2 separate regions of the Homo sapiens genome follow, and region 2 is linked to region 1. Evidence: fine-mapped expression QTL. A gene starts in region 1. The other region holds a variant in brackets. All regions are shown on one strand. Distances are from middle to middle.

Region 1 (2,756 bases):
AGAATCCAGCATAGGAGACGGGCCTTAGGATGCCCAAGTTAGGATTAGGGGCAAACTACGTTAACCTGGTAGTTAGGAGCTGAAGTTCTGGAATCAAAGATTTGGGTTCCAATCCCATTTCTGTACTTCCTGTTTGACCTTCTCTGGGGGGTTCAATACTTAAAACTCTCAGAGCTTCAGGGTTTTGTTTTGTTTTGTTGAACCGGTAGGTCTAGTTATAGTACCTCTATTACTAAATGAGGAAGAAACGAAGTACAAATGTGTTTTGCTTGCTTGATGCTCAAGAATTGATGCGACCGGGAGCGGTGGCTTACTCCTGTAATCTCAGCACTTTGGGAGGCTGACGTGGGTGGATTGCTTGAGGCCGTTGGAGACCAGCCTGGGCAACATGGGGAAACCCCATCTCTACTAAAAATACAAAAATTAGCCGGACCTGGTGGTTCGTGCCTGTAATCCCAACTATTCGGGAGGTTAGGTAGGAGAATTGCTTAAAACCGGGCGGCGGAGGTTGCTGTGAGCCAAGGTCGAGCCACTGCACTCTAGCCTGGGCGACAGAGTGAGACCCTGTCTCTAAATAAATAAATACATACATACAAGAATTGATACCTGGCTGGGCACACCTGTAATCCTGACACTTTGGGAAGCTGAGGCGGGAAGATTGCTTGGGCCCAGGAGTTTGAGACCAGCCTAGGCACCATGGTGGGACTTCATCTCTAACAACAACAACAAAGATTGATGCCCATTATTATGTTGTCAGAAAGAAGCAGGCAGGACAAGGGATATTTGGGGTTGGACGTTGTTGGGGGCCCTCTTGGGGGAGGGTGGGCGCAAGCACTTGGCATCTCTTCCAGTTTTATCTTGAACAACTTCTGCCTTTATTTATTTTATTTATTTATTATTTATTTATTTATTTTTTGAGATGGAGTTTCGCTCTTGTTGCCCAGGCTGGAGGACAATGGCAGGATGTCGGCTCACTGCAACCTGCGCCTTAGCCTCCTGAGTAGCTAGGATTACAGGCATGAACCACCACGCCCAGGTTTCTCCACGTTAGTCAGGCTGGTCTCGAACTCCCGACCTCAGGTGATCCGCCCGCGTCGGCCTCCCAAAGTGCTAGGATTACAGGTGTGAGCCACCGTGCCCGGACGACTTTGCTGGCTTTAAAGATGGAGGAGGCGGCCAGAGGAGAGCGGAGCGGGTGTGGAACAGTGACTGGGAAAGTAGCCCAGAGGCTGCAGAGTCGCCGCACGCTCGCGCGGTCACCGAGGTGCTGGACTACGTTACCCACAATGCGTGCCTTTGAGGACCACATTAACCACAGTGCACGTCGCGGACCCGCCCACTCGGCCGTGTTGCCACGCCCCCAACGGCCGGCTTAGCCAATGGTGCCACGGCTACGTTACCCACAATGCCGCCTGCGGGCCCACCCGCACGGCCTGGTTTGCACCCCTGGTTTAGGGTCTTCGGCCCCGGCTCTGGCGTCCCTGGCTGCCAAGCCTGAGGCCCGCAGTCCTACTCCCGCCGAGACCCGCCGCTCCGGTCCTGCCCCGAACTGCCCACGGCCGGCAGCGCTTCCAGTGAGTGCGGGGGGCGCGGGGACGCGGGTCCCGGCCGAAGCTTCGATTTCGCGGCCCGCGCCAGCACCCGGGTCTGTGCCGCGGCCTCGGGTACCGCTCACCCTCCACCTGAGGGATGAGACGGGAAAGCAGCCCGGCCTGGGGGTCCCAGCTCTCCCAGGACCCTGGAATTGGGGGGCTGTCGTGACCACCCACGCGGGGGTGCCTGACGGGGCCGCGTAGGGGCTTCAGGGTTCGCCAGACCTGGACACCGGGGATCAAGTTGAGGCAGAGTCTGCAGAAAGGCCCTACTTTTCATCAGATTTCCAAAGGAACCCCTTCCATATAGGACCCACTCTAATCATGGAAAATAACGATTCTCGAGCTCTGACCGCAAACATCCCTTTTAGATTGTTTTTGTTTGAGTCTCTCTCTGTCGCCCAGGCTGGAGTGCAGTGGCGCTATCTCAGTTCACTGCAACCTCCATCTCCCGGGTTCAAGCGATTCTCCTGTCTCAGCCTCCCGAGTTGCTGGGATTACAGATGTGCTACCACCATGTCGGGCTAATTTTTGTATTTTTTGTAGAGACAGGGTTCCACCACGTTGACCAGGTGGTCAACTCCTGAACTCACGTGATCTGCCCTCCTCTGCCTCCCAAAGTGCGGGGATTACAGGCGTCAGCTACTGCCCCCAGCCATCCCTTTTAGTTCTGTCAGCAACCTGTGTGTGTAGGTCCTGTTATCATCTCTGTTTGCCCAGTGAGGAAGCAAAGCCCAGAGCCCTTCAGTAAATTACCCGGGAATTAACAGGGGGTTAATAACAAAGATGACATTCATCCACTTCCTTTTCCTTTTCCATGGTGGGGTGAGCTGGCCTTGGAACCAGGGCAGGGGCTTCCCAGGCCAAAGGGCTTATCCAGCCCCAGGGCTGCCCTTCAGATGGTTTTATCGTCTCTCCACAGGGCCCTGAAAAAAACTCTCTTCCTGTGTCTGGCCAGAGGTATAGAGAGAGACAGGTTCAACTCTAAGGCCTGAAAAGGAACAAGGCCCACCGGAAGCAATGGCCACTGTCCCTGGCCTCCAGCCCCTGCCAACCTTGGAGCAGGACCTGGAACAGGAAGAGATCCTGATTGTGAAGGTGGAGGAGGACTTCTGCTTGGAAGAGGAGCCCTCCGTGGAGACGGAGGACCCCAGCCCTGAGACT
Region 2 (3,012 bases), 39 kb after region 1:
GAGGCCGTTTTTATTCCTAGGAAGAAAAAGAGGGAGTAAACTTTGATCAGAAGCTTATAAACAGTCATTCTTTAACCAGACTAATTTTATTCACTAATTGCAGAAATGCCCAAACAAACAAGCAAAATAAAAATAAAGACAGAAAGTGATGGCCTGGTGCGGTGGCTCACACTTGTAATTCCAGCACTTTGGGAGGCTGAGATGGGCGGGTCACTTGAGGTCAGGAGTTTGAGACCATTCTGGATAACATGATGAAACCCCATCTCTACTAAAAATATAAAAGTTAGCTGGGTGTGGTGGCATGTACCTGTAATCCCAGCTACTCAGGAGGCTGAGGCAGGAGAATCGCTTGAACCCGGGAGGTGGAGGTTACAGTGAGCTGAGATTGCGCCACTGCACTCTAGCCTGGGCAACAGAGTGAGACTCTGTCTCAAAAACAAAAAAAAGAAAAAAGAAAGTGATCCCTGGCCTTCTTTTCCCGGAGGGTTCATTCGATCCCTGTGATCCCTGTTCCCCTCTAGCTTCTGCCATGGAGGAGGAGAGAGGCTGGGCTTTCAGTGCCTCTGGGGAATGACCTCCCGACGTCACTGCCCACCTGCCCTTTGCTAATCTGTGTACAATAGTTAGAGACAATATAAAGCCCCTGGCAGGGTCCATGGCTGCGTCTTGCCCATAGTAGGATGTGATCATCTTGTTTTTGGAAAAGGGTCGTCTCCTCACTTCCACCCCCTTATGTTCCACACACAGCCTAACTCTGTCTCCTGGTTCTCATTTGATATTGTGGTGCAGCGACCTCTCTTCCTCTCTCTGCGTGCCTCTTCCAGTTCCCAGTGAGCCAAAGCAAAGCATTGCTGAAGCCCCAGGTCTCCGGTTCCCAAGTTGTGGCCCTCACTTAGACATACCCAGCCCATGGAGTGCTGGTGCACCTTGGTACAGGGTGGTCTGTTGCGCTCCCTCCACAGGAGGCTCTAGGCATAGGCAGCTGGGTATGCAGTCAGTACGGCCCCTCAAAGGGTCACGTTTGGAATTCTCAGGCTCTTAAGTCTTTGGGTGTCCTGTTAAGATGCAGAGTCCATAACCGCTCCATAGAGGAGCAGGGGGAGGCGTTTGTGTTGTGATGGGATTTTGACACTAGCTGAGGTGGAGGCTTGCTGATAGTAAGCACAGGATGGGGCCTGAGGGGAGCTGGGGGCATCAGAAGGAAGGGGTGGGGCTGAACGAGGAGTGGTAAGAGAGCCCCAGGGAGATGCTCTGCTGTTGTGTAAAGGAAGATAGTGTTAGGACGAGCTGGGTGCATTCGAGCCCTGCTGCAGAGGCATCTCCATGCAGCCCCCCTGGCCAGGGGCTGCCACTGAACCCTGGTATCAGGACCTTCTGGAATGGCTGCCCAGGTGTGCATCCCAGAGTCACTGAGGGCTGCCAGGCAATGGAAGGTAGTTGCCTGCTGTGGTCTAATATGTGAATCCCGGCTGGGCGCGGTGGCTCACGCCTGTAATCCAGCACTTTGGGAGGCTAAGGCGGGTGGATCACGAGGTCAGGAGATCGAGACCATCCTGGCTAACACGGTGAAACCCCATCTCTACTAAAAATACAAAAAACTAGCTGGGCGTAGTGGCGGGCGCCTGTAGTCCCAGCTACTTGGGAGGCTGAGGCAGGAGAATGGCGTGAACTTGGGAGGCGGAGCTTGCAGTGAGCCGAGATCGCGCCACTGCACTCCA[G/T]CCTGGGCGACAGAGCGAGACTCTGTCTCAAAAAAACAACAAAAAAGTGAATCCCGTAAAAGGGACAGATCCTGGGGTTCAGTCACCAGTTGTTATCCCCTCTGCAGGCAAGAACTGGGGAAGGGAAAGAAGGCCTGTGGGCGTTAACCATGTAGGATCCCAGGTAACCATGCAAGTGGGTATTATTTTAAATGTGACTCCCTTGTCCCAACCCCAGAGTCGCAGCTAGGAAGCCCACAGTTTTTTCCCATGGGAAAATGCATTGCCAGAATTTTAACAGCAATCAGTGAGAAAGATGGGATTCTTTGGTCACAGATTTTTCAAGAATGTTTCTTTAAGGTGAGGTGACAAAGGATGAATCAGTGGCGGTGGGACTTGTCCACGGTGGAGTCCCTTCTTTCCTCACTGCTCCTCTCCACCCAGCAGTGGGCTAGTAGATGCCAGGCCTGTGGTGGTCAGGGTTTTTCAACTGTGGCTGTGTTGACAATCCAGGCTGGATCATTCTTTGCTGTGGGGGCTGTCCTGGACACTGTGGGATGTTTAGCGGCAGCCTTGGCCTCCAGCAGCCCTTCCCTGCCCAGTTGTGAGAACCAAAAATGCCTTCACACATTGCCACATATTCCCTGGTTGAGTGCCATCTGCCTATCTGGTGGTGTGAAAGAGCATAGCTGGCCTTGGGCTAGGAGGATGCGAAATCAGAGCAAGGAGACGAAGGCTCAGGGCCTCACAAGGCAGTGTACGAGCAACTGTCAGCATTTTTCTGCCTGCCTGCCTCCAATCCCCACAACGTCCAGGGTGGCAGATAACTTCTGCTTCCTGTCAACTCATCCCGCCTGGCCTAGCCTCGCCACCAGCTTTGGTGAACCCCACATGCGAGGCGGCTGGCCATGTCTAGCATATCTTGCGTTTGTTTAGGAGAGAGTTAGATTTGAATAAGAAGAATGGTGGTGGCTGGACCCCGCTGATGTATGCCTCCTACATTGGCCACGACACAATCGTGCACCTGCTGCTTGAGGCGGGGGTGAGTGTGAATGTGCCGACCCCAGAAGGGCAGACTCCACTGATGCTGGCCTCCAGCTGTGGCAACGAGAGCATCGCCTACTTTCTTCTCCAGGTGAGCTACGAGGGAACTCAGGCCCAGAAACCTGAGGGGCTCCGTGGCCACCCTGACAGAGATGCGAACCACTGCAGGCCACGGTGTTCGTGTGTGCTCGTGTAATCACTTCTGATTCTTGCAGCATGGCCGCCTGGAGGGCGCCCGCCCCACGCAGAGGAGATGAGGCCGTAACGCACG

The links. PIP is the estimated chance that this variant, and not a neighbour inherited with it, causes the effect.
Region 2: its variant is fine-mapped to the expression of ZNF500 in whole blood (TOPMed, PIP above 0.99).

What each region holds. Positions count from the first base shown.
Region 1 is chr16:4,765,835-4,768,590 of GRCh38, reverse strand. It overlaps ZNF500 (zinc finger protein 500), which reads left to right and starts at 1,429. Exons shown (of 6, transcript NM_021646.4): 1 at 1,429-1,574; 2 at 2,515-2,756. The coding sequence starts at 2,613. RefSeq lists an enhancer at 111-190 and a silencer at 1,383-1,682.
Region 2 is chr16:4,726,799-4,729,810 of GRCh38, reverse strand. ANKS3 (ankyrin repeat and sterile alpha motif domain containing 3) reads left to right here. Exons shown (of 18, transcript NM_133450.4): 4 at 2,634-2,832. Among named protein-coding and RNA genes, the nearest start is that of ANKS3, 6.0 kb to the left of the region's middle. The variant G/T (reference allele first, on the strand shown) is at 1,719.